Linked DNA regions of Homo sapiens: region 2 is linked to region 1. Evidence: fine-mapped QTL for protein levels in blood plasma. Region 1 holds a variant in brackets. A gene starts in the other region. All regions are shown on their forward strands. Region 1 has its middle 160 kb from the start of MIR5195. Region 2 holds the start of ACSL1 (acyl-CoA synthetase long chain family member 1).

Evidence for each region. PIP is the posterior inclusion probability: the model's chance that the variant is causal. Protein levels are from antibody-based Olink assays in UK Biobank. Linkage for the fine-mapping came from a reference panel and not from the study's own genotypes, which makes the PIPs less certain.
Region 2: it holds the start of ACSL1, and the variant in region 1 is fine-mapped to the plasma level of the ACSL1 protein (UK Biobank, PIP above 0.99).

Annotation. Positions count from the first base shown.
Region 1 is chr14:106,684,547-106,700,584 of GRCh38, forward strand. It overlaps IGH, the pseudogene IGHVII-67-1, the pseudogene IGHVIII-67-2, the pseudogene IGHVIII-67-3 and the pseudogene IGHVIII-67-4. Among named protein-coding and RNA genes, the nearest start is that of MIR5195, 160 kb to the right of the region's middle. The variant T/C (reference allele first, on the strand shown) is at 8,036.
Region 2 is chr4:184,819,365-184,835,402 of GRCh38, forward strand. ACSL1 (acyl-CoA synthetase long chain family member 1) reads right to left here and starts at 6,604. Exons shown (of 21, transcript NM_001995.5): 1 at 6,552-6,604. LOC105377587 (a long non-coding RNA gene) reads left to right here and starts at 6,807. Exons shown (of 3, transcript XR_939564.4): 1 at 6,807-7,607; 2 at 11,749-12,071. RefSeq lists enhancers at 5,853-5,922, 7,173-7,676, 7,283-7,332, 7,503-7,782 and a silencer at 6,093-7,052.

The sequences.
Region 1 (16,038 bases):
TTCTGCATGACAATGAAGGACCTTCCACCATGGAGATAAATTACTGGAAAGATTCTTCCTCTGGATGGTCTGTCTGGAGAAGGTTCTGGGTATATGTTTTAGAGATTAGGTCTCTTGAAGACTGACCCAATTCACAAGGAATTTATATTAATTCTAAGTTAAAAATGTGGAGGTTCCTGGAGCAAACAAGGGCCCCCCAGAATATCTCTTTCTAATAATAGCACAAACCTGTCCTTTAAGTTCTTTAATTCAGATGTATATATAACAAATCAAACAGACAGGGTCATTTAAATAGTAACTTACTCATTCAAATAAGTTAGGGCAGCAGCTGAATATAATAATCAAATTGAATTCAAGCAAATCTGGGTGCAAACAAATGTTTATCATAGTTCAGAACAGTTTCATTAACTCAATTAATCTGTGTAACATTTCATTTCTGAGGTATTTCACCACCAAGTGTATTGAAGTGTTGCCATAATATTGCTGTGTAGTTGGATTTTTTTATGTCAGCCTAACATGTAGGTCAGTTTGAAAAATGTAAATTTTTCTACAAAATGGCCATCATCCCTAGTGTTGCTAAAATATCCAGAAATCCTCAATCTTATTGGTTTTCACTAATACCTGAATTTCTGCAAAAATTATATGAACCAAAAAAAAAATCTCCCCTTCATGGATGACTGAAAACTGTGAACTTTACTCACCACTACAAATAAAGCCAGTTAATGCAGGATTCTCAGTGCGGCATGTTGAGCCAGTAATGTAGGGCACATATCCTAGAGGGGTCCCAGTGTGTCTCTGCCAATAAAATTTGAATTGAGGGATCCTGATTATGCATTCATGGGAGTATAGAATCCTCAGGATCCTTAGCAATAGAGCTTTACAGTGAAAGGCTTGCAGGTGGAATGAGTCCATGATGATTCAGCATCTCCTTCTCTCTCTTTTTCTCTATTGTCATCTCTCATTACTGTTCTTTGCTTCAGAATCCTTAAACGAGCCAACAGCCTCCATTCTACATACTGCCAACTCTGGGCTGAAAGAGAATTATGAGCAAAACAAATGTTTTCTTAACAAGGTGAGGAAACTTTCTGAACTTCCATTAGGTTTATTAGAGACTCTCATGGAGAACCATAATCAAGCATTATTTGTTTTTCAGTCACTCCCCAACATTGAAACTGTTTTTCATAATAGCTACACTAATCTGAATCTCCACCACTATGGAAAGCAGTAAGATGATCTTAAATCAATTAGAACTAGAACTACTGTATGACCAGCAACCTCCCTTCTGGGAATATACCCAAGATAGAAAAAATCACCACCTTGTGGAGATATCTGCACTCCTATGTTTACTGCAGCGCTATTCACAAGAGCCAAGATATTGAAATAATCTAAGTGTCAATGAAAAAAAAATGCAGAAAAGTGGCTGGATGCTATGGCTCACGCCTGCAATCTGAGCACTTTCAAAGACTGAGGTGGGTTGATTTTTTGAGGTCACAGTTTGAGACCAGCCTGACAAACATGTTGAAACACCATCTCTACAAAAAATACAAAAATTAACCGGGAGTGGTGGTGCATGCCTGTAATCCCAGATACTCCGGAGGCTGAAGCAGGAGAATTGTTTGAGCCCAGAAGGCAGGGATTACAGTGACCTGAAATCACGCCACTGCACTCCAGCCTGGGTGACAGAGTGAGTGAATCTCCATCTCAAACAAACAAACAAACAAACAAACAAAAAGGATAATGGCAATGTGGTATGTATACAGAATAGAATATTATTTAGCCTTTTAAAAGAGATGCTGCCATTTGCCACAGTAGGAATGGGTTTCCAGCAGCACTAGCCATGCATTTTATCCATTCAACCCATTCCCCGGGGACTGGCAGATCCACGTCCAATATTAAGCATTGGTTGTGATGAAGTGGCCAGAGACAGCATGGGTGAGGTCAGTGTGTGATCTTCACACCTAGGCATGACTGCTGTAGCTGCTCCTGAATAGGACATCTGGCGGTATGGAAAATTAGTTACTGTCAGTTACAGTACTATTCCCATAGACCCATGTCTGTCATCTGGACATCTGAGACTCTCATGATTTACCATCTTTAGGCTGTTATCTCGATACCTAAAGGGTATTCTAGTCAGGGAGATGCACTAAGGTCTCTGTTCTGAGTGTGATTGGAGAAGACTCAACAGGTCCCACTGAGCTGCTACAGGTCTCCAATTCTAGCGACCACGGTTGAGGACTTTTCATTTCTGTAAATGTCAATTTGCGTTTTGTCCATATGAGAATATGTCCTCATATTACAATATTTTTTAAAAACCTATTTAGTGATGGCATTGGTAGGCACAGAATGCTAAAATTAGGGAAGTTCTCTGGAGAAACTGTCAGATGGAAGTTTTGTTTTTTTAAAAATATACTGGCAGGAAAGCAGTTCTTAACCTTTCTGTGCACCTCCCTCTGGGGTCGACTCTCATCAGTGGGTCCCAAGCTCCCCCTGCAGCTAATTCGCCCATGTGTCCCTGGAGGTTTATGTCTGGGCACACACTGGCTTTCCCTCATGTGCTCCTCTTGCACAGTGATATACTGATGTGTTCTTGGTTTACAGATCGCCCATTTGCAGATATAGCATATTCTTGACATTGTCTCTGGAGACAATAAATCAAAGACAAATAAATATTCTGTCGGACCAATAAAACCTGAGAAAACCTATTTCCAGCACATGAATCTTTCCGTAGACATTTTAGCAGAGTCTCTAGATGAATAGCCATGTGACATAGATCCAACACCTGAAAATATGCACAAAGAAGATGGTCAACAATGGAAAAATGAGGTTGAAATACAGTTTTTGCATTTGTATTTTGTTCATTATGTAAGTGTGGAAAGCAATTATAAAAATGCCAATATTACATTTTATAGCATGTATAGATACAAACAGAAAATAAAAAACATGGGATAGGAAAGAGGAATTAGATATATAGAGTTATAATATCTCTGTAGTATATATGAATGGGAATTAAATTTTTGAATTAGAATTCAATTATAGAAACTTTTTATTGTTATCCTTATGGTAACCCATAAAATGTTAGTCACAGAATGATTAAATAATAAGTTAATAGAAACAATAAACTTTATTGTAAAAATACAAATTAAAACAAGAATAATTGGACAAAAGAGTAACATCATTAAAAAATAATTCTTCATAGTTGACTAAAAAAAAACACCCAACTATTATTTATCTCCAAGAAAATTTCTTTACATATTCAGAAATAGAAAAAATAAAGATGGAAAAATATATATCATGAAAATATAAACCAAAAGAAAACTTAAATAGCTATGTTAATTTAAGACAAAATAATCATAAAAAGAAGACCTTTGGGACTCAAGAGAAATATTACATAAAGTAATAGGATCAACTTTCCAAAATACATTTAAAAATACTTAATGAATGGATTTGGAACAGAAAATATAATAACATGTATAGAAGACGGAGAAATCAACACTCATTGTGATTGACAAGCAGTGTTCAAATAAGTAAAGATATAAGTGTCCTAAATAGGACTATCAATCTACTTGATAAATTTTTATCTATAAAATATTAAACTAGAAAACTTCAGAAACACAAACTGTGATTTGCCAGAAGAGAATAAAGGAACATGACAACTCAATTCAAAGTGATGACCTTGTTGGAATCTGGGAACAAACAAATATACAAAAACAACAGCAAGGAGAGATCCTGTCTCAAAAAACAAAAAAAAAAAAAGAAAGAAAAAAGAAAAAGACAGTATCCACTAAAAGAGACAAACCGTGAATTATTTAAGACAGTTTATTCTGAGATATATATGAGTGGCCAAGGCCCATGACACAACTCCAGGAGTTCCTGAGTACACGTATCCAAAATGGTTTGGTTACAGCTTGATTTTATACATTTTAGTGGTACAGAAGGTATAGACAGATATGAATCAACACATGTGAGCTATACCATTTACACAGTCCAGAAAGGCAGAATAAGCTTACTCAAGTGCTTCCAGGACATACGTGAATTCAAACATTTTCTGATTGGCAATTGGTTGAAATGTTACACACTCATTACAAATGAGTATCTGGATTAAGATACGAGATTGTGGAGCTCATAATTGTTATTATGTAGATGAAACCTCCAGGTAGCAGACTTCATAGAGAATAGATTTTTAGGCGTTGCTGTTTGTCATGTGATGCTATACTAGAATCATATTGTAATTTGGTATCTTTTCACTATGAAGAGTGTTTATAGAAAAAATATAGTTTTGTCAGTCTAAGGGTCTTTGTTTTAGTGTTAATGCTGGCCACAGGTGCCTTAATTCCAAAGACAGGAGGACATAATGAGGCATATCTGACCTCTCATTTTCCCATTATTGCTGGAACAAGTTTTAAAGTTTACTTTAAAATATCTTTGGCTGATAGTTGAGTTCATTTAGTTGGATGAGGAAGCTTAGAATTTTATTTTTGGTTTACAAAAGAAATTATTGGAAAAATGGTAAATCTCAAATAAGGCCTGGTATTGAATATATTTAAAGTTATCAACGTAAATGTGTTAACACCATGTTTTATGATTGTGGAGGATGTTCATCTTAGGAGATACTTAGAGATGGGAACACACTGTATTAACTTTATGATTATTTTGTTAATCTACAATTATTCTGAATCAAATGTATATGAATGTAAAAATACTATCATAAAAATACAAGTCACAATTGATAAAATAGGTTTCTGGAAATTATAACATGTCAATCATAATTATGGACATTAATTTTAGAAGATAATATAGAAATTATCATCAAAAAATGATAAATGTTCATTTCTATCAAAAAACAAGTGAAGTACCTAATACTAAAATCAAGCAATGAGAGTGCTATTTGTATAATTATTTTATTTTCTATGATAAATAAAATGTGTTATTATTATAGGCATATCATAGACCAATAGTGGGCATAATCATGTTATTTTTTTCTAAATTTTGTGCCAATATCCTGTTAATTTCATATAGACATTTCTTACTGCATGTGTCATTTCCAAAATATTCAGCTATTATTTTTCATTTTAATATGACTCCTCTGTAGGCCCTAGGTATTCCAAATGCTTTCTATAACTTTTCCCCTTTTGTGGTTTCTACTGTCTCTTAACATGCAAAACTTCAATTTATATAACTATATAGGGGAGTAATGTATTTTAGAAGTTCATAATCATGCATACACATACACACATATGCCCAGTACTGAAATATACATGTGAAAATAGAAAAATGAACACCTATCCAAATACCAAACCAAAACATGAATTTATTCAATTTATTTTATTTATTTAATTGAATTGAATTTACTCTCTTTTATAGTATAATGTAGTAGTCCCAAATAATGCTTTTCTGTGTGAGTGTTTCTCTATCCTAATGCCAATAAACAAATACATTTAAAGACATGCCTCGGTAGAACTGAATGTAAATGCCATTCTGGCCAAACACATTAATTAAATGGACAATGGTATTTATGTATAGAATCTGTGTTGGTTTATTTGTCAGTTTTGCTATCAGTATACTTTTAAAATACCAGCCAATTATTAATAAACTTAATAACATATAAGATAAACATCACTTTTAAAATTGTATTATATTATTGGTTAAATTCACATTGTATTTTTATAAAAGTCAGGATAAATGTTCTTATTTAGAAATTAGGATTTTTTTCTACAATTGATTTTGTATAAATTTGCAATACAAATTCTAGATGTTAATTTGCCAGTACTCCTGGATGCTAGAGAACATCCAGTAATATGGAACTGAAAACAGCCCAGGATCCCCAAAATTCACTCACAATGGCAGGGTTGTCTGAGAATTGCTAACACATTAGGGATTTGAACTTCATCATCAAAGCACTAGTGAGCCTTAGTGCTGAGCACACAGAGAGCAGCAGGAGCTGCAGAGACTATTCTGTGGTACTTAGGTAAAGGAGTGGATGTGGTGGAGGTGACGTCTGCAGGACCCTAGAAAGGGGTGAGGAAGGCAGAGAGTCTGCAGGTAGATGAGCATATTCTAAGGAGAACTGTTATCCTCCTAAACTTGGTTGACTTCAATGATCATGAAGAGAAGTGAACAGATTCACCAGACATGGAAGAGGCAAAATAAAGGGACTTGTTGCTTCCTTGCTAGGAGACTGAGGAAGACAAAAGGCTTGGACAGAAGAAGGGAAGGTGGAGAAATAGTGTGAGGAGCAGAACACCAGAACCCAACCAAGGTGGGGGAACTGAGCCCTGAAAGTGGTGTTTCATCTCCACAAAAGGCAGATGAAAGAAAAAGAAACTTAACACTATGCCTATGCTGAGTTATTGGTAGAAAAGCATTGACTATAGTGTGACTGACACAGCAAAGAAAACAAAAACCCATGCATGGAACCAGAGCTTGAATTAGGCATACGCAATTTCTTATTATCAAAACATTCAATTACTGCTAGTGTTATTCTAAAAATATGGAGGGTTAAAAGTTGAATTGAATTCCTGTTCTAAGTTAATGATTTGTACGTGAAAGAAACCATGGGTTACAAGGAAGAAATGGTGAGAGATCCTGGGAAGGTTTTCGCTTGACCAGATCAGGGATCAGCAAGGTCTAAAAGCAAATCTGACCCTCCCCAGGCACCTGATGTGGAGCTGCCTCCTAAGAGAACCCTGTTGTCTGAGTGATACCCTGGTGGTTCCTGAGCCCCCCATGGTGGCCTGAGCACCCCCTGTTCGTCCTGAAGCTCTGGTGTCCTCAGCACTCTGAGCAGTCGTGAGTGCCTCCTGGTGGTCTTGTGTGTCTTTAGGTGTTTCTGTTACCCCTGGTCCTGAGTATTTCTTGGTGGTCTGGAATGCACCCTCGTGATTCTGTGCCCCCTGCTGTCCTGAGCACCCCCTGGTGTCCTGAGCCCCTTCCCTGGTGTCCTGCATGCCCCTGCTAGTCCTGGTCACCCCCAGGTGTTTCTGAGAGCCCCCTGGTGTCCTGAGCACCCTCCCTGGTGTCCTGAGCGCCCCTGCTGTCCTGAGTGTCCCTGGGTGTCCTGAGAACCTGCTGGTGGTTCTGAATGCCCCCAGTGTCCTGAGCGCCCCCTGGTGGTTCTGAGTGCCCCCGAGTGGTTCTGATCCTCTTCTGGTGTCCTGAGTGCCTCCTGCTCCCCCGAGTGCCCCCTGGTGGTCCTGAGTGCCTCTTGCTGGTCCTGAGCATCCCACTGTGTCTTGAGCGCCCCCTGCTGTCCTGAGTGCACCCCGTGGTACTGAGCGCCCCCTGCTGTCCTGAGTGCCACCTGGTGGTTCTGAGTGCCCCCAGGTCATTCTGAGCTTCCCCTGGTGTCCTGAGCGCCCCCTGCAGGTTCTGAGGGCCGCATGATGTCCTGGGTGCCCCCTGGTGGTTCTGAGCACCCCCAGGTTGTTCTGAGAGCCCCCTGTTACCCTGAGAACAGCCTGCTGCTCCTGCATGCCCCATGGTGTCCTGAGCACCCCCTGCTGGTCCTGAGCGCCCCCTAGTGGTCCTGAGCGCCCCCTGCTGTCCTGAGTGCCCCCTGGTGGTTCCAAGTGCCCCCAGGTCTTTCTGACCTTCCCCTGGTGTTCTGAGCGCCCCCTGCAGGTCCTGAGGGCCCCATGGTGTCCCGAATGCCTGCTGCTGTCCTGAGTGACCCCTAGTGGTTCTGAGCACCCCCAGGTGGTTCTGTGAGCCCCCTGTTGCCCTGAGCACGGCCTGCTTCTCCTGCATGCCTCATAGAGTCCCAAGCATGCCCTGCTGGTCATGAGCGCCCCCTGGTGTCCTGAGTACCACCTGGTGGTTCTGAGCTCCCCCTGGTGTCCAGAGCGCCCCCTGGTTTCCTGAGTGACCCTTGGTGGTTCTGAGAGCCCCCTGGTGATCCTGAGCAATGCCCCCTACAACACACACCATGTCCTGAGCGCACCCTGCTCTGCTGAGCACCCTCTGCTGTCCTGAGTGCCCCCTGGTGTCCTAAGCACCATTTATCACAAAGTCCTCTCTTGTCTCCCTGCAGGGAGGTTTC[T/C]GTCTGGACTCACAGAAATGTCCCTCGCTGTGTCTCTCACAGTAATACACTGCCTACCCCTGTGAGAGCCCCCTCAGCTTCCAAGTAGATTATTTTAAGGGAGACTGTGCTGGTAATTGGTGTCCCTGGGAATTGTGAATCTTCATTATGCTGATGCAGAATATCACTGAGAACTTCCACTTGAATCAATCACTGTTACCACCCACTCCAGCCTCTGTCCCCCAGCCATCTGGGCTCAATTTATGCTGTAGTCAGTGAAGGTGAATCTTGATGCTTTGCAAAAGAGGCTAAGAGAACAGCCAGGCTGTTTTGCCAAAGATAAAAATATAGATCCAGTAAACATTTGAGGTTTCCCAGGAAGGTGGGGAGAAGGTGTGTGGATTAGGTGAAACACACACTTTTTAATCCCAATGAAACTATTTTTTTTTTTTGAGAGGGAGTCTTGCTCTGTCACCCAGGCTGGAGTGCAGTGGCGCGATCTCTGCTCATAGCAAGCTCTGCCTCCCGGGTTCGCGCCATTCTCCTGCCTCAGCCTCCCGAGTAGTTGGGACTACAGGTGCCCACCACCACTCCCGGCTAATTTTTGTATTTTTAGTAGAGATGGGGTTTCATTGTGTTAGCCAGGATGGTCTCGATCTCCTGACCTCGTGATCCGCCCACCTCGGCCTCCCAAAGTGCTGGGATTACAGGCGTGAGCCAACACGCCCGGCCAATGAAACTATTTTTATGATATTCAATGATGGACACATGGCATAAAGAATTTCTGAAAACTCATATTTTTTGAGACAAAGTGTTAACCTAAATGCATACAACTTCGAAAGTATTTAGCAGGTCATGAAACACAAAAAAAGACAGCTGTATAAAAATATCTAACAACAATCAGAAGGTTTGAACTAATTACACTGAAGAAGGTGGGGCATAAATATTGGACACAAGAGACTTGGAAAGAATTTGATGTTGCGATTGTAAAACATAAATAAGCTCCACATAAGCACTGTATTCTAGTTGATAAACATATTTTCAACAAGGGTCAGTTTAACAATCCTAAAGACGATTTGTGTATTTTGAAATTGTGCACTAAGTAAATTAATGTCATATCTTAGGAGAGGTTTTCTCATTTTGGAGTGTGGGATTATGGACAAGCAGAGAAAGAAGGCTATGAATGTCTATGTGGATGACAGTAGTGTGTAAAAGCCAGTGTGTTCTTAGGTTTAATGTAATATAGTTACAGAATATTAGACACATAAACACTTTAATTTTGAATCTTTGTGGGTAAATAGTACACGTATATATTTATGGGGTACAGGACTCTGAATCAGCATGAACTGCATAATAATCACATCATGAAGAATATTTTATACATCCTCTCAAGCATTAATAGAGTTACCAACATTCCATTCATAAACTTTTATTTTAAAATCTATAATTAAGTTATTGAGGACTATATTTATTCTGTTGTGTTATAAAATATTATGTGTTATTTATTATTTCTAATCACTTTTTCTACCCATTGACCATCCCCAATAATCCCCATCTACCATAGACCTTCCCAGCTTCTGGTGACCATCTTTTCCCTCTCTATCTCCACGAGTTCAATTGTCTTAATTTTTAGCTTTCACAAATAAATGGGAACATGTGAATTTTGTCTTTCTGTTCTGGGCTCATTTCAATTAATATAGTGAACTCCAGTTTCATCCATGTTGCTGCAAATGACAAAATCTCATTTTTTTATGGCATGATATTAACCCATATCCTATATGTACCATATTTTATTTATCCATTCATGTGTTAATCGGCACATAGGTTGCTTTCAAATTTTGACTGTTGTGAACAGTGCTTTAACAGTGCTATTACAGACATGGTAGTGCAAAAACATTTCCTTTTTAGGGGTATATACCAGCAGCAGGATTGCCAGATTATATGATAACTCTATCGTCAGGTTTTGAGGAAACTCTAAGCTGTTCTCTATAGTGGTTGTACTAATTTAAATGCTCAACAGTTTATGAGTGTTCCCATTTCTCCACAGCCTCCCAGGATCCTGATGTGGAGCTGCTTTCTAAGAGATTCTTCCTGTTCTGAGTGCCCACTGGTGTTCTGAGCGCCCCCTGGTGTCCTGAGCGTCCCCTCGTGGTCCTGAGCTTCCTTCCCCTCGCGGTTCAGAGCGTCTCTTGGTTTCCTCAGCGCCCCCCCCCCCCCCCCCCCCCGGTGGCTCCAGCACGCTGACGTGTCCTGAGGTCCTCCTGGTGGCCCTGAGGGCTCCCTAGTGGTCCTGAATGCCCCCTGGTGCCCTAAGAGCCCCCTGGTGGATCCGAGCACCCCCCGCTGTATCCTGAGTGGCCCCCTGGTGTCCTGAGCGCCCCCAGCTGTATCCTGAGTGCCGCCTGGTGTCCTGAGCGCCCCCTTGTGTTGAGTGCCCCCTGGTGCTTCTGAGCAGCATCTACCATGCAGTTCCCTCCTGTCTCCCTGCAGATTTTTGTGTCTGGGCTTGTGCAGATAATCTCTCTCCTGTGAAGCTCACAGTATTACACAACCTTGTCCTTGGCTTTCAGGTTAGTCATTGTAAGGTAGAGTGCACGTGAAAGGGTGTCGCTGGACCAGTTAATTTATTTGTACTCATGAAGAGTAAACCTGAGCACTCCCACTTGTTGACTCACTGTTGCCAGCCACCACAATCCCTGTTGTGAAGCCTGCTGGACCAACCTCAGGCTGTTGCCAGAAAAGGTGAATCCAGACGCTTTGCAAGAAAGTCTCAGTGAACCACTGGGCTGTACTACGTTTACCCCTCTGACTCCACCACTGAACTTCATACAGGACTTCTATGAACACAGAGGAAATAGACTGAGAACAACCCTATGAGCAGCCACAGCTGGACCTGATTTACAAGGGACACTAATATGGAGGGTGATGAGAAGGGAAACCCAGATCAGTGCAGACTCCATAGTGTGAACACTGAAGAAAGACACAGATATGGGGTGGCTCCTCACCAGGGCCTGAAGGAACAGGGGATGAGCTGCCTTTCATGAGGAGGGGATGGGACATATTTCCAGGTCTTTCTCTTTGTGGTCGTAGGTGCACCACTCAGCGTTGCTCATCCATCCTCTGTGTCTCCATTTCAGGGAAGGCAGAGTCAAATGGTTCCTGCGTCTGGATGCACAGGGTTAATCTGCCCATTGCTCTTTTTTATTCTCTAATGTGGACACTGTTCAGGTATCTTCATGTGAGCAAACATTATCAACAAATTAGTCCAGTAAGAACATAAGAAATACATTTCCAGAGAAAATGGAAATCTGACTGTAATCAGTGCATTTATAGCTGCAAACGACTGTTTCTGACAATGAGATGAAGTTATGTTACAATAGACAAAATGCAGATCTACAGATTTTCAGGGTTGGAGTTTATAATTATCATTATCTTGAGATCATTTTGTCGCAAGACAGTTTAACATTGGACATATGTGCTTGTGTCAGGAAACAGTCAGTGTTGAAATATGTGTACTTATCTGAGTGAAGACTTCATTCACACTGAGACATGTTTGCTTATCTGAGACAAGAGTCCACATGAGGAAATGTCTGTTTTCTGAGGAAAGTGTAAATGTAAGGACATATGTGGTAGTCTGAGGAAATAGTCCATGTGGGGACATTTGTGTTTGAGGGAAGAATCCACATGAGTGAAGCTGTGTCTGTCTGACAGAAGAGTCCACATATTGACAGGTGTGTACCCATCTGAGGGTAAATGCCCATTCAGGTCAGCGTATGCCTGAACTAAGCTGAAGTTAGGGGAAAATCTTTCTCAACCAATGAAAGAAAAGAATCCTTTGGGTTATTTGCTTGTCGGGAATTAAAAACAAGGGTAAGGTAGAAAATTGATTTTTTTAAAATAAAAGGTCTTCAGTGAATGGAAACATTGTATATGCAAATGGGGAAAATTACTTCATTCTTTGTTGCATGTATCTCATAACATCCCCACTCTCACCAAATAAGTTATTGGATAATTTTATACAGTCTGCATTTAATCCTGGGGTTAATGAACTGCTGAATTTTTTTAATTGAATATGTTTAAGTTTATATTTTCTATCACAAAATTATTAGCTTAGACAAATTAGTTATATCATATCTCAACCATTGCATATCACTAAAAATAGTTTTATTTTTCCTAAACACCACATTTTTTTTTTTGCTTATTTTATACCCACTCTCTAAATTCCTGGAACATCCTCTGTCTGTTTACTTGACTATAGTCTAAGCATTTATGGAATTTCAAATAAATGAAATTATACAATGTAATTGAAATGACTTCATTGAAGAATGTGGAAAATGAAGTTGCTGACCTAAGCAACTCAGAAAACGAAGAAATTCTATAAGTTTAATGTGTAAAAAATCTGCACATAAGCACTCTATTCTAGTAGATAAACATGGTTCCATCAAGGGCACAGCTTTACACTTTTGATACTGCTATGCATGTGTCCTGAAACTGTGCAGCTAAGTAATAAAATTACATATGGTGGAATGGGGTTTCTCACTTTGCAGTGGGTGGTTATGGAAACGCAAAGAAAGAAGACTAGAAAGGTTCATGTGCTAACATAGTTGGGTGGAGAGACCAGTGTGTTCTCATTTTTAATGTGATATGGTTACAGAAGATTAGATACATAAATAGTTTCAATGAGTCCATAAACTTGGGTTCACATAAACATGCACGTTTACTGGGACCATTGTTTGAGAGGTTCTAGAAGTACTCATACCACATTAACAACACACAGAGCCAGTATCACAATGTTTTATTTTAATACTATTCTTTAACATCAGAAACATGCAATCTTTATAAAAGTGGTTGATTCTATGTAAAAAAAGGTAATAAAGAAAACAAGCTTAGAATTTATGGTAATACCAGGAAATACGCAAGTGTTCAAAAACAAAAATATGAGGTGTGCTGTAAGGATGCAGGATTCAAACAAAATGAGCTCCCAGCACCTAATAAAGCTGTGGTGCTTTGAACAATTAAATGAATGATGTAGCATGGATCTTTTTCAAAGTATAAAATGGACATCCATCAACCAATACTGATATTAATAGATGATTAATTAAAAAATAATAGGAAGAAGAACACATCTCCTTACAGAAGTATTCCAAATACATTAGATTGATGGTCCTCCAATCAAGCAGGTGAAGTTTAAACACTCATGAGTTGATTGTGGCCTGAGATTAGAGATATGGAAAAAATAATGACTATTAGTTTATTTTATAATGAAACTTCAGATATAATGCCAAAGGCATGATCTATGAATGAATAAAATTATATATGTTTTCAATCTAAATTTGTACAAACACACACACACACAAACACACACATTTTTCTGCGATACCTACTGATAAGGGAGTAAAAGGCAACCACAGACTTGGAGAAAATACTTCCTGTGGGGTTCAGTCAGGCTCGTGGGAAAAATTTTAGTTATAATAGCCACAAGTCCTCGTGGAAGGCTTGAGAGATTGCATAACTTCAGTAATAAATCTGGCTGAAGGCAGCCTAGTCCCCTTACCTTTAGTTTAGTAAATTTGAGTAGAAACAAAAGAATGTGGGGAGTTTATCTAACTAGCTTGTTCACTCATGTGGTCCTAAGACTCACCTTTGATCTACCTGGATGGTCAGTCAAGCTGGCAAAGCAGAATATCTGTGTGTCAGTGTACTTTATTCACCCGTTGTTGTGTCAGGACCTGCAGGACAGACCCCCACAGCCGGTGCCCCATGTGAGGATCGCTGCAAAGGGAGCGTGACAGACCCCATGAAAACGAAGGTTGAGGAAGACTGCGTGGTCAAGTCAGTAAAACAGTAAGTCATTGGTGCCCACTTGGGATCTCCAAGTTCAGGGGAGATTGTTCAGGCTGAGATTTCATCATGGGACAGCAGTTATCAGCTCAACACAAACAGCATATGAAAGTATTGTAACAGTTGCTTAAGGCTAGGGGAGCATCAGTTTCGCAGGCTCAATTAAGGCACCTAATGAAAACTGTTGTCTCACATAATCTGTGGTCCCAGAAGAAGGAAAGCTAGAAGTAAAGCTCTGGGAACAAGTAGGGAGAAATCTTGAACAGCATTACACACAAGCGCAACGGGTCCCAGCATCATCTTTAACACTATGGGCTTTAGTAGGGATGGCTTTAGTCCCATTATACAAAGAAGAACCCAAAAAGGGGAAGGAGGAAGAAACGTCACTTGCCTTACCACCTGCTCTTCCCAAAATAACAAAGAGGAAACGGAGGTTTTGCCTGAGCCCCCTCTTTCAATAGATAGAAAAAATAGAGGAAATACACTACAGCTATATGTCCCTGTCTTCGACAAGCAGCATTAAAAGGGGAGCTCTTAGACTGCCCAGTAATGCAAGATCAGCAAGGCAATCAGGTACACGAAGGGTTAAGAAAAGGCATTAGGGGCAGGAGCAAGTGCAGGAAGCTCCCCTCTGCCGGCAGCAGCTGCTGAGCAGTGTGGGGAGGGAGCTGGCACAGAGGAAACGCGGTGGCGAAAAGTGGCTTCTAAGCAAGCACAAAGCCGCAGCCGCCCTGGGACCCACCTGCTCCGCTCTCTGGCTCCGCAGGCGGCCCAAAGCAAAATTTGTTATGTTCTTTGTATACAAGCGACATCCCAGATTATAATTCTATGATAAGAGTTAAGTAAAATTTAAGAATTTGAGAAACCTCTTTCTAATAATGGCCACTGTTATCTCTCTCTTATTCCTAACATGACTCCAAATCCAGTTTAAGTAAAACAGTAACCTCTAAAGGGAGAGACATTACAAAAAGCCCCTAAGTTAGTTAGGGAGCAATTAAAAGCAAGCTTTGCTCCCTAGTAGGAAAAAGTTTCCTGGCTACAAGATTATTCATTTTATGGGTAATATTCTACTAACAGCCCTTAGAATTTACCCATTTTCATCATTCCCAAAAGGCCTAGTTAATGTGTTACCTACAAAAATAGTTTACTCCCCCATATTTAATGCTTTAGCACTGTTTACTGATAGATCTGGTAAATATGGAAAAGCAGCAGTCTGGTGGACACCACACAATTCATTCACTCAATCTGGGTTTACTAGCACTCAGAAAGCTAAAGTTGAGTCCTTAATATTGGGTCTAGAGAACTTTTACAGCCCTAATTAAGTCAACTCTGGAGCCAGCCCTGTGGACTCTTTTTCTCTGATTTCAGCAATTGCTAAATCAAAGTACACATCCTATTTTATTACACACATTCCAGCCCACAGCTCACTGCCTGGTCCATTAGCTTATGACAATAATCAAGCCAACCTTCAAGTTATGATATCGCTGCTTGACCAAGCCACCCAATTGCACCAATTTTTCCACCAAAATTGGAAAAACTTATCTAAACAATTCCAACTTATATAGAGACTGGCTAAACAGTCTCTGAGATCGCCAGCTCAACTTATACAGAGACTGGCTAAACAGTCTCTGAGATCGCCAGCTCACAGGCACGTCTCCTCCTTCAACAGGTATTAACCCTAGAACCTAATCTGTTGTGGCAAACAGATGTTACACACATCCCTGAATTTGGAAAACTTAGATAGGTACATGTATCCTTTGATATCAACACTCATTTAAGTAGTGCACATACTCCGCCTGGAGAGTTTACTCGATATGTCATTAAACATCTTCTTTTATCTTTTGCATTTATGGAACAACCCGCAAAAATTAAGACTGATAATTGTCCAGGTTAGGCCAGCTCACAATTTCAACAATTTTGTCACACGTGGAATATCCGACATTCCTCAGGTATCCCATATAAACCCCAAGGACAAGCAATAGTAGAACTTGCCAACTCCACCCTTAAAATATGCACAAAAAACAAAAACAGGGGAGTATGGGTACAGACCCTGCAACACTTTTGGCACAAACCTTATTTTTTTAATTTAGAAGACAAATTTGAATCCGCTGTAGAAAAGCACTTTGCTAAAATTTCCCAATACATGAAACCTGCAGTTTTATGGAAAGATGTAAACAGTAATG
Region 2 (16,038 bases), not on the chromosome of region 1:
ACTCCTGACCTCAGATGATCCACCTGCCTTGGCCTCCCAAAGTGCTGAGATTACAGGCGTGAGCTACCACACCCAGCCTAGATGTACTCAACACAAACTTTATCCCAGCAAAAGCACAGACTTGAGTCTAGAGATTTTCAGTGTCTTGATCTTAGCTATAGGATCAAAGACACCATCGGACCAGGACACAGGAAGGTCAGTCAGGCAGATGACAGCACCCAGGTACAGTGTCTTGGGTACACAGACCCATTAACCCCATGCCGCCAGAGTTTGCTTTCTAGAAGCCTCAGGATATGGTGGTTTGGAGAGGAGTGGAGATAGCAGGTAGGAAGCAAGCTGCAGAAGCCCCTGACAGGCAAGGTAAGTAAACACCTGGAGCCTTATGGAGGGGAGCCTGGAAGGCTTCTGCTTAGGAGGGATTTGATCAGAGCTGTGATTTAGAAAAAGCAACCATCCCCCTCTGCACCCTGCCCCTCTTCCTAACAAAGGCCTTCACTGTTTAAATTGGAGGTGACAATTCTGGTTCACGATGGCAATACTGAGAAGGCAAGGAGGAAATGCATGTGTGTTGGGTAATACTGCACAGAGAGGGTCAGAATAAGCAGAACTGCTGACTGACTGGACTTCAGGGCAGAAACCAAGGGCAATACCGACGTCCAGCCATTCTTTGAACAGGCACAGGGCCCGGGAACAAACTCCACACGTGTGCATGGCCAGAGGGTCAGGCAGGTTGTGTTACCTTGGCCAAGTCACCCCCCTCCGATCCCTGCAGACTCCCAAGTAGCTGGGACTACAGGTGCCCACCACCATGCCTGGCTAATTTTTTGTATTTTTAGTAGAGACAGGGTTGCACCGTGTTAGCCAGGATGGTCTTGATCTCCTGACCTCATGATCCGCCCACCTCGGCCTCCCAAAGTGCTGGGATTACAGGCGTGAGCCACTGCACCCGGCCAGTCATGCGTCTCAATTGTTCTCCAGCCTTACAAGACCAATGTCCAGGGCAGGCAAAGCCTTTTATTTTTTAATTCTCTAGAAAGTCACAGCTACATAGCAAGTGATCTTATCACTCCCTGAGCCACGCTGAATCAAAATTTGTGGTCTCTTTCAGCACTCTAGTGGTATAAAGAGATAATTCAAGGCAGAGTGTAAATGAGATGGGGGTAAAATCAAGGAGCAGTGACACCGAAGGAGACCCAGCTCTGTCCTTCCTGTCTTACTGCCAGCTGTATAACCTGGAACTTTCTTTTTTTTTCTTTTGGAGACAGAGTCTCACTCTGTCACCCAGGCTGGAGTGCTGTGGCGCAATCTTGGCTCACTGCAGCCTCCGCCTCCTGGGTTCATGCGATTCTCCTGCCTCAACCTCCCGAGCAGCTGAGACTACAGGCACGTACCACCACGCCCAGTTAATTTTTGTATTTTTAGTAGAGACGGGGTTTCACCATATTGGTCAGGGTGATCCACCCGCCTCGGCCTCCCAAAATGCTGGGATTACAGGCGTGAGCCACCGCACCTGGCCTAACCTGGAACTTTCTAGGCCCTCCTGGAGTGAGAACTTCTAGCTCTGGAGGGGCAGTAGAGCCCAGCAATTAGGAGCACAGACCCTGAAGCCAGACTGCCTAGGTTCAAATTCTGGTATGGGGAACTTAATCTTTGCACCTGTTCCTTTATCTTGTGTACAGTAAGGATAGCAGCAGGACCTACCTTACAGGGTTGCTGAAGGTACTAATGAGTTAACCCATCAGAAGCTTAGCAGCACCTGGCTCTGTCTGCTGCTCTCATCACTGCTCTGTTCCTAAGCCTGGCCGTGTCCAGGCTGTGGCTACCACCTCGGTCAGCTACCACAGCCCTGCTTTGTGGCAGACACCTGGACCCTGAAGGAGAAACTAGCTCCGGAAGCACTTTCTCATGACTCTGCTTAATAAAGGAATAAATAGTATTCAGAGTGTTTCAGTCCTTCTTATATGGACATTTCTCCCACAACAAACCTAAGGGGAAAGTGCCCATTTCTATAGCAGCCAAAGCTGTGCTAATGGATAGAGCCTACATTTATCAGAAGTCCCCTCCAGAATGAGGAAATGGTCTACAGGCAGGCCCCGTTTCCTCCTCTGATGCCCTAACTTCTTTCCATTTCTCTTTCCAAACCATGAAATCCCTATTTCAACTGCTTTTGACTAGAATACATGAACCCAAAAGTCCATTAAACCTATTCATTAGTAAAAACACTTTTCAAATTATTGTTAATTTCAAGAGTTTTAAAGCAGAACATTTTTTATTTTTTAAAGACGTATTTAAACATATAACAAAGGTTGGTAAACTGTTCTGAAAAATATCCAACAAATGGGGAGAAGTAACTAAATTATGGCCCATACAGCAAATAATGCAGTCATCTTCAGAACTTATTTTTTGAAGAATATGTAACAACGTGTAAAAAAGCCCACAATATAACTTAGGTGATAAAGTTAAATTGTCAAAATTGTAATCTTTAATTAACAATGTATGCTTAAAATTTGTTTATTGTATAGGGAAAAAAGACTGGAAGGAAATATAACAAAATGTTAATAGTATTTAATCTCTGGAAGAGCTTCATTTTTCCTATTTCCCAAATTTTCTCCAGTAAGTATGTATGACTCTTAAAATATGAAAAACAAATACAGCTTTTCTGTGGCAAGTGGTTTTTAGATATTAGACAGCTTTCAGAATTTTATTTAAACTTGAAGACCAGCAAATAATTCATAAAGAGAATCAGCCCAGGCACCTATATGGAACCACCAGTTTTGAGATTTTATTTTATTGTTTTTACTTTTTTTTTTCTAGAGATGGGGTCTTGCTCTGTTGCCCAGGCTGGTCTTGAACTCCTGGCCTCAAGCAACAAGCTATTTGCCTCCAGATGATCACATCCTTCTAAGGCAGGCAGCACAGGGGAGCAGGGCCCTTACTCACCTCCACTTAAGTTTTTGTCCAAGGGTGACACCCTCCAAGCCAGCCACACTTCAAGGAGTCTCCAATATTTCACCCGCCCCTCTTGATTCCTCAAAGGTCATAAGTGAATCAATACTGTGTTGTTTCTAACACAGTCAAGAACATGAAAGTGGGCTGGGTGCAGTGGCTCACGCCTGTAATCCTAGCACTTTGGGGAGGCCAAGGAGGGCAAATCGCTTGAGCCCAGGAGTTCGAGACAACTGGGCAATATGGCAAAACCGCTTCACTACGAAAAAAATACAAAAATTAGCTGGGCATAGTGATGTGCGCCTGTAGTCTAAGCTACTGGAGAGGCTGAAGTGGGAGGATCAACTGAGCCCAGGGAGGTGGAGAGGCTGCAACGAGCCATGATCATGCCTGTACTCCAACCTGGGCGACAGAGTGAGACCTTATCTGGGAAAAAAGAAAAAAAAAAGAAAGTGAAAATGTCATGATGTAGAAAATGAACATAACTCAGATTATGTGATAGTTTTCTCTTCTTGCCATTATATACAACCCAAGGCTTGCCACAAACTGAAATTTCTTATGCATTGACATTCAGCATTTGATGTAAAATGACAATCTTAGAGTCGCTGCCACAAACCCTGGTAAAACTGCCCCTGCCTTCTCCAGTTCACTAAGTTCAGCTACTCCTTCAGGGCTTGTGCTCCTTTAAAACTTTTCAGAAGCCCCTTGAAGTACCAACATGTTGAAACTCAAACTCAACTGCCTGCAGCTTCAGATCAGCTCTGGCCACTGAGAATTCTTCTCCAGGCCCCAGTGTCAAAGGCACTTTTGACCATCATGTGTTTGTCTGACTACCAAGTTGGACTGCCAACCTTCACTAAAAACTCCGGCACCTTTATCTACCTCCTGTCAGATCACCGCCTGTCAGAGAGGGAGGCCTAAAAAGGCTTCAGGATATCAACAGCTTTGAGCTGCCTTAGAGGAACTTCTTTTCTATTTTGTAGTACAGGAGCCTCATGCACTGCATCATCCAAACAAGACTCTCCACAAAACATTACTAATGGATTCTAATTGAACAGAGTTTGGTTACAAGAGACAGTAAACACAAATGGGCACCTGTTTTAAATGGCAAACTTACACAATAAATTCAATTGATCTTAAAAACTAAACATTCCTCTAAGGTTACTGACTATAAATATCTAGAAATTACTACTCCTATAGTCTTGCTATTTCCAGACAAGTGAAACTGGAAGGGAGAGAGGAGAAATACCCAGTTATAATGACAAGACAACCTTATCTTTTCTCAAAAGCCTCCCCAAACACACAACCATTTTCCACAAAACAGTTACATCAAAAAAGATGTAGCAAGACCTAGACATTAAGCATGCTAGAAAGTAGGGACAGTTTTACCAGTGTTTGTGGCAGCAACTCTGAGATAGTCATTTTACATCAAATGCTAAATGTCAATGCATAAGAAATTTCAGTTTGTGGTAAGCCCTGGGTTATATATAATGGCAACAAGAGAAAACTATCACATAATCTGAATTACGTTCATTTTTCTGCATACACCATGCATGCTGGTACACTTTCAGTTAGCCTAAACTTCACCCAAAAGTAGAGGTGGCTATGAAAACTCTACCTGCATGGTATAAATAGATACCTAACCCTACATGCATGGGTCACTTGTATCTACCTCCTAAATACCAAAAACTTAGAAGCCCAGATTTCTTTTCAGTCAGGCTGCCTGCGATAACAATAAAAATACTGCCAAAATAGGAACAACAGAGACAGGAAGGAAATATGCCAAAATGCTTATAATTGTGGGGAAGGGTAATTTTTTGTTTTGTTTTGTTTTTTACAGAGTCCTGCTCTGTTGCCCAGTCTGGAGTGCAGTGGCGGGATCTCAGCTCATCACAACTTCTGCCTCCTGAGTTCAAGCGATTCTCCTGGCTCAGCCTCTCGAGTAGCTGGGACTAGAGATGCATGCCACCACGCCTGGCTAATTATTTGTATTTTTAGTAGAGATAGGGTTTCTCCATGTTGGTCAGGCTGGTCTCGAACTCCTGACCTCAAATGATCTGCCCGCCTCGGTCTCCCAAAGTGCTGGGATTACAGTGAGCCACCACGCCTGTCTGGGTAATTTTTTTTTAAGTATTCTGTTTACAGTAAATTCAGAAAACAGAAGTCTTTAATATGTCTGTTTTAAAGGGGAGAGGTATAAGGTGTGCGGCTAACAAGTTTATTTTTCTAGTCGCAGAATTTGGACTCGTGAAAGATTTTAGTCTAATGCAGTTTGTTCACAAATATAAGGAGGGGGGCCTCAGACTAGGGAGGTGTTTTCCGAGTTGAGTCAGAACAAGAAAGTAAGTCTCCCAAGACCTGGTCCTTTTCCACTATATCACACTGCACTGTCTGGCTCCAATCTGATGGCGAGCAATGGTTCCTTAAAAAGCTCCATCTTCTCAAGCCTACCCAGCACAGACCTACAACTCAAACTTTAAGTTTTAGCCAGCCTAACCTTCCACGTCCACTTGAAAAAAGAAAAAAAAGAAAGAAACAATCAACCGGAAGCCTTTGATTTTTTTGCTAGCAAGAAGCCAATAATTGTTTTCTTTGGGACAATCACAGGTTAAGTTGTGAAATGGGTGGCAGAAACTGCAAGATTTAACCAGTTTCTCTCAACGCTAATCAAAGGTCAAGAAAATAAAAGACAGGGCAGTGAGAGTCGCGGGACTTTAGACACTCCTGCACCAAGAAGCTTAAAAGTCTTAGCCAGGGCACTAGAGAACGCTTTTAGAATGGTCACTCTTAATTATGCTCCATAACCTTGAAATTGGACTGAGTGGGGAAGGGGTTTCCACACTCTCACAACGCACCGACTGGGGGAACGCCTGTCCCCAGACTCGAATCCACGTGTCCATTCAAGTCATCTACCGCCACTCTCCGTCTACGCTGCCAGGTGACAGACATCATCTTTGCTTCTCAATTTCAAAAAATGCCAGCACTCCTTAGATCAATGACTCCACGGCCAAGTGCAAGGGCCACGGGCACTCCTCTGGAGTCACCGAGAGAATGTCTGCCTCTGGCAGCGGCCTCTGAGCTGCCTGTGGGCCTCGTGCCGCCGCGCTGCGTGGGGCCGGCATCTCAGCGGGCGCGAGTGCAGTCTCGCCCCACGCGCGGTCCGAACGCCCGCGAGCCCGGCCTCTGGGCAGGCGGGGGCCGCGGACGAGGGCAACGTCAGCGGCCCAGCTGGGCCACCTCCTCCCAGCCGAAGCGCGGCCTCCGGCTGCTTCGCCGGGCCGGTCCCCGCCGCCGCACACACAAGGGTCGGTCCCGCGCGCATCCCCGGCCGCGCACCAGCCCCGCGCCCGCGCCGCCCGCGACTCAGACACAGGAAGCTGCGGCAGCACGGGCACCCCGGAGGCCTCCGGCTGCCGAGGGAAGCGGGGCCGCGGGCAGGAGGCCGGAAAGGCGGCGCGGCCCCACGAGCCTGGGGTGGCTCACGCGCCTCCGCGGCGGCCGCTGCTCCGGGCTCGGCCCTGAAGGGCAACGTCAGCCGGCGCCTCGGCCGGGGCCCGGGCACCGCCGCGGGAGCAGGCGCGGCTCCGCACGGCGGGCGCACTCACCTCCTCCGTGGACCGGCCGCTCCGCCGCCGGCTGTCACTGCAGCCCACTCCCTGCCCCGCGCCGGCTCTGGATGCTATTTAAGGCGCCGCTGGCGCCGCCGCCTCGGCCCGCTGGTTGCGCCCCCGCCACCGCCGCGGCTGAGCCAGGATGCTGCTGGTGCGCTCGCCGCGCCGGCCCCGCCCTCCCGCGGCCCCGCCCCGCCCGCAGGCCCCGCCCCCGGCAGGCCCCGCCCCGCCGAGCGCCCGGCCGCCCTCCTGTCTGGGCGCGCGTGGCTGGCGGGTGGCCGGCGGTCGAGAGGCTGCGGCGGGCGAACGCCGCTGGAGTCGCCCAGACTGCCTCGGATTTCATAATGAATCTGAGGAAGGACAAAGGGTACATTGGACCGCCTCAGCTCAGAGGCCCCGCGGACCCTGGGCCCCGCGATGCCCGAGGGGCGGGCGGCGCCCTCCGGATCCTGCACCCTCAGCCCGTGCCCCGCTGGCCTCCTGGCAGGCCGGGCAGAATTCTGCTGCGAGGGCCCTGGAGGCAAGGGCCTTCCTCTCCGTTTTTCCTTGACACTGACGGGCGCGGCCCCACAGGGTTTCCCCCACGCTCCCTGGCCGGAAGACCTTTTCTGTCTGGTGTCTGCAGAGCCTGACGTGGGCAGCGCCCGCAGCTCGCGCCGGTGCAGGGGAGCTGAGGGCCGACTGCGCGCTGCACCACGGCGGCCACCTGCTGTGCGGTTCTGAGGGCTTCCGCGGTTCTGAGGGCTTCCGCGTCCCTGCCATGCCCATCTTGGGGCTTCAGAAGCCAACACGATGGTTTTCGGGCTCACATCCCAAAGGCTGCTCTTCCTTTTAGCACCTGGGACCTACCAGGAACCTCAACCTCTAACAACATTGGTCCCCGTTACCGTGGAGTTTGCGCCCAGCGTTCGCTGGAGGGCCGTTTGAAGAATGATTGTTGTCGTAAAGGCCTTTGATAATAATAGATACTGTTTACCCAGTGCTTGATGCCAGGCATTGCTACAAACACTGCGTACACATTATTCTATTTAATCTTCATAACCCAGTGAGGTAGGTACTGTCATTACTGTCCTTTCACAGAAGAGGAAGCTGGGGCACAGAGGTTAAATGCTAGTGAGAGCAGTACCACACTTGGCACTCAGGCTGCCCCCAGAGTGTGGGCACAACCAACGCAGGGCTATGCCTGGGCTGCAGGCAGGGGAAACTGACCGTGGTTCGCTCCAGGCCTCAGCCACACTGCAGTTCACTCCCACAAATAACTGAAGGACTTTCCCTGGGTGTCTCCCACAGTGTGCTGGGCGCAGTGGTGCAGTGGGGTGAGGACAACGCACACACCAGCAACCTCTCTAGCAGCTCAGTCCTTTTAGATCTCCATCTTCCAGATCTAGAAAAAATGGACTCCACGTTCGTTTTCACTGGTTCCCGCTTGGCTAATCCCTGGTTTTTCTGTCCAGATCTCGCCTCCCCATCCGTGATTTTGTCATCTTTGCCTCTCCTTTTTCCTCTTCTCCAACCGGTCCCTCAGCCCCAGAACCTCTGCAGGCACCTCCCAAGTTCTGTGGTCTATTGTTTTCAAGGGCTGCTGGAACGAAGTACCACACACTAAGTGGCTTCAACAACCGAAATGTATGGTCTGTCCTGGTTCTGGAGACTAGAAGTACAAAATCACGGCGTGGGAGGGCTGGCTGCTTCCGAGGCCCATGAAAGAGCATGTGTGCCCGGCCACTCTGACTTGCAGATGCCCATCTTCTCCCTATGTCTCCTCACACCATCTTCCCTGTGGTGTGTGTGTGCAAATCCCTTCTTTCTATAAGGACACCAGTCATACTGGACTAGGGCCCACCCGAATTGCCTCATTTTAACTTGATGACCTCTGTAATCATGAGGTAATGTCCAAGTAAGGTCCCATTCTAAGATACCTGAATGCCCAGGCACGGTGGTTCATGCCTGTAATCCCAGCACTTTGGGAGGCCGAGGCAGGCAGATCAACTGAGGTCAGGAGTTCAAGACCAGCCTGGCCAACATGGTGAAACCCTGTCTCTACTAAAAATAAAAAAATTAGCGGGGCATGGTGGTGCGTACCTGTAGTCCCAGCTACTCGGGAGGCTGAGGCAGAAGAATTGTTTGAACCCAGGGAGGTGGAGGTTGCAATGAGCCAAGATCACGCCACTGCATTCCAGCCTGGGAGACAGAGCAAGACTCTGTCTCAAAACAACAACAACAACAACAACAAACCCCTGAACATATGAACTTGGGGAATGTGGGGGTGACAATTCAACCCGTAACATGTGGATGGTCGTCACTGGCTGTCTCACCTTACGTCTTCTCCTCAAGACACTTTTCTTTTAAACTGGGTGCCTCTCCCTGGGCTCTAGCCCTTAATGAGGTGATTTCCAACTCAAGGCTGGGAAAGGCACACAACCCAGTATCAGACCTGAGTTCACACTCCTTCTGGCAGGAACTTCTAGGTGACATTGGGAAGCAACTTCATTCCTTAGAACCTAGATTTCTCCTCAGGCTATAAGGGGGCTTGGCTAAATAATCTCTTAGGTCTCTTTCAGCACACACACTTAAAAAAAAACAAAAAAGTTTTTATCTAATCACTCCAAAAAGTTTTACAATGTATGGGGTTGTCTTGTGGACTTGAGATAGAGACTTTGATGGGAGGCAGTATTGCATAGTGGTTAAGAACACAGGCTTTGGGGTGGGTGAATCCACATCAAGCCTCATTGCATCCTCCTTAAATCAGGAATAATACCTACCTCAGACAGGTGTCATAGGATTGACAGCCACGCCCTTGGCGTTCTCATTAAATGAAGATTCCAGACTCTATAGTTGGGAGTTTGTGACTTAGGTAAGAAACCAGTCTCTTTTTTTGAGACGGAGTCTCACTCTGTTGCCCAGGCTGGGGTGCAGTGGTGCGATCTCGGCTCACTGCAATCTCTACCTCCTGGGTTCATGCCATTTTCCTGCCTCAGCCTCCCAAGTAGCTGGGACCACAGGCACCCACCACCACACCCGGCTAGTTTTTTGTATTTTTAGTAGAGATGGGGTTTCATTGTGTTAGCCAGGATGGTCTCGATCTCCTGACTTCGTGATCCACCCGCCTTGGCCTCCCAAAGTGCTGGGATTACAGGCGTGAGCCACCGCGCCCGGCCTTTTTTTTTTTTTTTTTTTTAAATGAAGGACATGATTGTTTTTAAAAATTGGGCCAGGTGCGGTGGCTCACACCTGTAATCCCAGCACTTTGGGAGGCAAATGCAGGAGGATTGCTTGAGTCCGGGAATTCAAGACCAGCCTGAGCAACATAGTGAGACCCTCCGTCTCTAAGAAAAAGTTTTTAAAAATTGTGTCACAGTGATCACAATGACCACTATTCACATCATAATGGCTTTTCTTTTGGCTATTAACACTGCAGTGTTTTTGTATACTGAAATGTGTCTGTGGGACCAACAGCATTAAAGAATAAAGATCCTAGATGAAAATAAACACTAATAATCCTGGTGTCCTCTCCAATAGAATTAATCTAAACTCCTTATGAATCAGTAGCATTATAATGTTATGTAGTTATGAGGAATAGAATTCTTTTAGAAGCAGGCAGCATGAACTTATACTTCCTTGTACTTACTTCTTTAAGAAACCAGTCTTAACCCTCCTTTCTACTGTCTTTTTTTTCAAGCATCTCTCTAGCCAAGGGAATAAGAGCCAATTGGATATTGTAGTGGTGCAAATTTCCTAGCGGAAATTTGAGTCTTTTTTCGGTCACTCCTGCCCTTGTTACATTTTGGCCTGATTAAAATGTTGTGGCTAATTCTGGCTAAATCCACATTGACATCTGCCTAACACCGATTGATCAATCTCCTGGAGAAGCTAAAGAGAACTGGGCCGGGTGCAGTGGCACATGCCTGTAATCCCAGCATGTTGGGAGGCCAAGGTCGGCGGATCACTTCAGCCCAGGAGTTTGAGACCAGTGTGAGCAACATGGCGAGATCCTGTCTCTACAAAAAATACAAAACTTAGCCCAGCATGGTGGTGTGCACCTGTAGCCTATAGTCCCAGCTACATGGGAGGCTGAGGTGGGAGGATCTCTTGAACCCAGGAGGTCGAGACTGCAGTGAACCGTGATTGCACCATTGCACTTTGGCATGGGCAACAGAGCAAGACCACATCAAAAAAAAAAAAGAAAGAAAGAAAAGAAAAAAAGAATCGAAGTCTTTCTGGGTCAAGCTGATTAGCAGGTTTACAGTGGCCTTGTCTCAAAAGTTCCCACTTGTGATTAGGAACTACAAAGCTGTGATTATTATTAATCTTCTGCACCTATTGCTTTTGAGCATGGCTATCTGAAGTATAGCCACATCAATTAATAATGGCCGATGAGCTTTTAATTACAGACCTCGGTAATTGGCTGGTTAAAGGAAGATTGGCATCAGTAACTGAGTTCTTTTTGTTCAATCCATTTTGGGACTGCAACTATATTAGGCATACATCCATGCCCCCATGAAACTGTAAGGGACTGGAAGGAGGCAGTGTGTCCCGTGAATCCTCATGAACCATCCCAGTCTTTCTTACTCCCCTGCACGTCCTCTTCATTTACACAGAGTAGGTATTCAATTGTTGAGTTGGACACATTTTTCTAACTACTCGATGTCAACCAAGGGTAGATCCACGTTTGGAGCCTTAAACTTACACAGTTTAGGGAACCTCTATAAGAAAATTACAAATACAAAGTTGGATACAAAAGTGAATGTTTCCTTTAGAATTAGAACAGAAATCACAGTAAACTACAAATTTTAAAAGTTTGGGCTTTCTAGGGCCTCCGGCAGTAGGGAAGGGAAAAAATGTTGCCCACATAATTGCAATCATAAATTTCACAAAATCCAGAAAAAAATCACCTAAAAATTTTATTAATTCTTTTTTCCTACCACTCTAATAAGTTTTTTTCCTGTGTTTTGGGCTGTGTACTAATGAATGTTTTCTTCATGCGACATTTTAAATAAACTTTATAAAACAGTTTTTGATGTATAGAAAAATTGCCAAGTTCCATAAACCCCCCACCCAATTTCCACTGATTAACATCTTAGATTAACATTTGTGATGATGACTGAGCCAATATTGACACATTATTATAACCAAAGCCCATCCATTGTTCAGATTTCATCCGTTTTTACCCAGCGTCCTTTTTCTGTCCCAGGATATCAACCAGGATATGGCATTGCATTGGATCCCAACCAGGATATGACGTTACATTGGATCCCAACCAGGATATGGCATTGCACTGGATCCCAACCAGGATATGGCATTGCACTGGATCCCAACCAGGATATGGCATTGCGTTGGATCCCAACCAGGTTATGGCATTACATTGGATCCCAACCAGGTTATGGCATTGCATTGGATCCCAACCAGGATATGACATTGCATTTACTCATCACGCCTCCTTAGGTTCCTCTTGGCTGTGACGGTTTCTCAGACTATCCTTGTTTTTTAGGACCTTGACAGTTTTGAGGCATACTGGTGAGTGTTTTGTAAAACATACTTCTATTGGGAGTTGTCTGATGTTTTTCTTACGATTAGACTGGGGTTATAGGTTTTTAGGAGGAAGGCCACATGTGACATTTTTATAATATAATTTTCTACAGGAAGAAAATTCGGACTTTTCTCTACCATGATTGATGGGCTTTTCTTACATTGTTAGTTTTGATTCAAAATCAAAACTATGTGGATGGGTACCAAATTCATTGCTTTTCATTTTAAATGAATGCTGATTGGAAAAATTTTCAGTGGTAAACCTACCGGCTATGTCCATTTCACTCCGTGTTTCTCTTCCCCTGCCCATCTCCTAAGATGCCTTAGGAGAGGGGAAATATGATCTCTGGCCTTGAACCTCCTGCCAGGATGCTAGATAAGTTGACAGAGAGGGTGGAGAAATATACCTGAAGGCATTCCTGTGCGGAGAAAGCTAGAGCTATACATGCAAGTCCCTGTGAATTCCGTAACTACATCTCCCCAGACCCAAAGAAATGTATGTTCAGCTCCAGCTCTTGTTAGCTGGGTTCCAAAGATGACCTTGGTCACTTCAGCACCATAATGGGATGAGGTGGTGACAGAAGAGACTTTGCATAGAGTGCACCAACTGTGCTATGTGCTGTATCAACTGATTGCAGCTACGTGGTCTTACTTTTGCAAATTTTGTGGAAACATTTAACCATGTGACTAGGTTGCCAGAGCCCCTCCCGAGGTCTCACAAGGGGCTTCTATAAATGAGAAGCCCTAAAAATCAAGCTATGTGAGCCTCGCAATGAATCTACTCCCGTTGGCAATGCTTTTTGCACCGTTATGATGCCACTGCTTGGACTTGCTAGTTCAACTCTCCTGGGCTTCAGCGGTAGTGAAGAAGAAGCATTTCCACCAGGCCGACACTGTTCTAACACTACTGATAATTATCCTGTGGTCTTCAGTGGCCCTAATGAAGTCATAGTCCCTTTCTCCACACCCCTTTTAGTTTTAACATGCACTTGATCCACTGGCTTCATCCACTCCATGTGGGAGAACAATCCACAGCTGCTTAGGCCGCAGCTGCCCAGGGTTTCCCCTCTCTTTTCTGGGTTGGAGGACTCCAGCTCTCCCAGACTCACTGCTCAGGCCTTCTCCTGGCATTGCAGTTCTGCCCCAACACAGAGCTGACAAACCAGGGCGTCTAGACCCCACCCTGCGTCCCCACAGCACTCTATTTTTTTGTTCTTGGAAGTGATATGAAGATCTTATGTAGTCAATGTCAAAAAGAAATGATAATTACTTCATTTTTCCCACTCAACTGGCCACTTATTCCCAACTAGTAAAATTCAACCTCTGCAAGGGTTTCTAAGGCACCCTTCATAACCTGACCCTGCTTTCCCCGCCAACAAGTTCATATCATTTTCCTCTCCAGCTATCTGTAGTCAAGAGTAAAAAGTCTGGAGTCACACAGGTTGGAACCAATTCCACTACTCACTAGTTCAGACCCAAGGCAAGTAACTGTCAAATCCCTGTCTTTCTTATCTGCTGAGTGAATATAATACTGTATTGCATCAAATCTAAATCATCAATTGTAAGATGCACTATTAATTTATGTAGCCCTGATAAAGAAAAGAATTTCTGCTGATTTTAATTGCAAAACATTGTCCTTTGGAAGATGCACCCTCTATCAATTCGCTTTTGCTGTATGACAAATCACACCAAAACTTAATGGCTTAACACCACAATCATTCATTAGCTCATCATTCTGTGGGTCGGCACTTGGGCTAGGTTCAGCTGGGTGGTTCCCCTGCTGGTCTCTCTTAGGCTCAGTCCTGCAGCCACCAATAGCTGGTGGATCAGCTGGGGCCAGATGCTCTGGGATAGCCTCATTTACATGTCTGATGGTTGGCTGACAATTTGCTGAGGCTCCTCAGTTCTTCACATGGCCACCCTAGCAAACTAGCTCAAGCGTGTTCAAATAGTAGTGTCACGGCTACAAGCACAGCAAAGGGGACAAGCCTCAGGGCATAAATGCTTTTCAAACCCCTTGCATCATGTTTGCGTGCTTGAATCCAGGCAGTCTGGTTCCAGACCCTCGACTCTTAACCTGCAGAGAGTTCCGTCTTACTGGAGAGGGGAATGAGAGCAGGGATGGGTCCCGTTGGCTAAAGCAAGCCACATGACCAAGTCAAGACTCAGTATGGGAAAGAGCTACTGAAGCACATGGGTACGAGGAGGAGAATTTTGCTGGTTATTTTGCAATCTACCCACATCCTGACTGTGTACATAAAAAAGTCTGAAGAAATTTGTACTAAGAGTGCACAAGTACTAAGAGTAGTAGTGCTTGCCTCAAAGAGTTGAGTAGTAGGGCTCTGTGAGATAATGTCAGTAATATCACTTAGTACAGTGCGTGGCCCCTGGTCAATGTTCTGTACGTACTATTACTATCACATTTGTGTCCGTGCTTCTTTCTACCAGAAAGCTGGTAAATTCATGTTTATCCTCCCAATCCTAACTCAGACATCACTTTCCCTAGGACACACACACAATTTGTTGCTCCCAGAGCTGTGCCACCCTGTACTTTACACACATTGCCTTTGTTGCAGCAGGTTGTCATTCTTGTGCTTCTGTGGGCCTGGCTTTGGGCTTTTTGGTAGCAGATATTCTGTGTCTAGACACCTTCCATCCCCAATACAGTGCCTGGCACTTGATATGTGTTTATTTAATTGAAGTGACATGTTACTTCCAATAGAACTTCTTCTCATTCCCCTGGGTATCATCTTCCTTTCCTCTGGGGATGCTCCCACAGCACCCTACCATCTTTCTAGTGTAGGACTTGTGACACTGAGCTGTGATGACTTGTTTGCGTAACATGCACACATAAAGAATTTTCCTTATTTCTTTATATTACACAGAGCTCCCCAGTACCATGACTAGCGGTAGCAGCAAATACTCTATAAATACCTGTTACATTTATTTATTTATTTATTTATTTATTTATTTATTTTTGAGACCGAGTCTCACTCTGTCACCCAGGCTGGAGTGAAGTGGTGCAATCTCAGCTCACTGCAACCTCCACCTCCCGGTTCAAGTGATTCTCGTGCCTCAGCCTCCCGAGTAGTTAGGATTACAGGCACCTGCCACCAGGACCAGCTAATTTTTGTATTTTTAATGGAGACAGTGTTTCACCACGTTGACTGGGCTGGTCTCAAACTCCTGACCTCAGGTGGTCTGCTCACCTTGGCCTCCCAAAGTGCTGGGATTATAGGCATGAGCCACTGCGCCTGGCCAACACCTGTTAAATTTAGAAAACAGAGTTTTCAATCTCTGTCTTACACCCAAGAAGGCCTGTGGCCCAGAGATCCGGAGTAAAATTAGATTCAGTATTTAATCCATCAATAGCTCGTTCTTACTGCATCCCTAGGGTATGAACTCTGCTGACTTTTCTCTCCTCTTTAGATCACAACCCAGTGACATCACCACTACACAGAGAATCATTGCAGGCCCTATCCATGTCTCCGTGGTCTCTCTGATCCCCCACCCCCACCCCAACACACACACCACGCGCGCTCACAAACGTCAGTATTTTATGTGAGTAGAGTGTGTCTATAAATACCATGGACAGTGGATGGGACTTGGATCAGGTCTTTTGTCACCCTATGATACCCTATGGGGGCAGGACCCCAGGACCCCATAGAGTTGGTATATTGGCTCGGAGGGATGTTGAAACTGTGAGTGGAACAACATACCACCATCCTCCACTTCCATTTGCACCCTCTACTTCTCTCCTGCAGCAGGCTGACGCCGGCCCAGAGCCTGCATACAGCCACAAGCTCACTTCTCAGCCTTTTGGAGGCCATGCACCACCTTGGGAATGCAATGGAAGATTCAGACCCTCCTCATAAACGTTTCCCACATGCTTTCTATGGGTTCCCTGGGGTCCCCAGTTAAGAGCCCTGGTGGAATAGAAAGGGCACTGGATTTG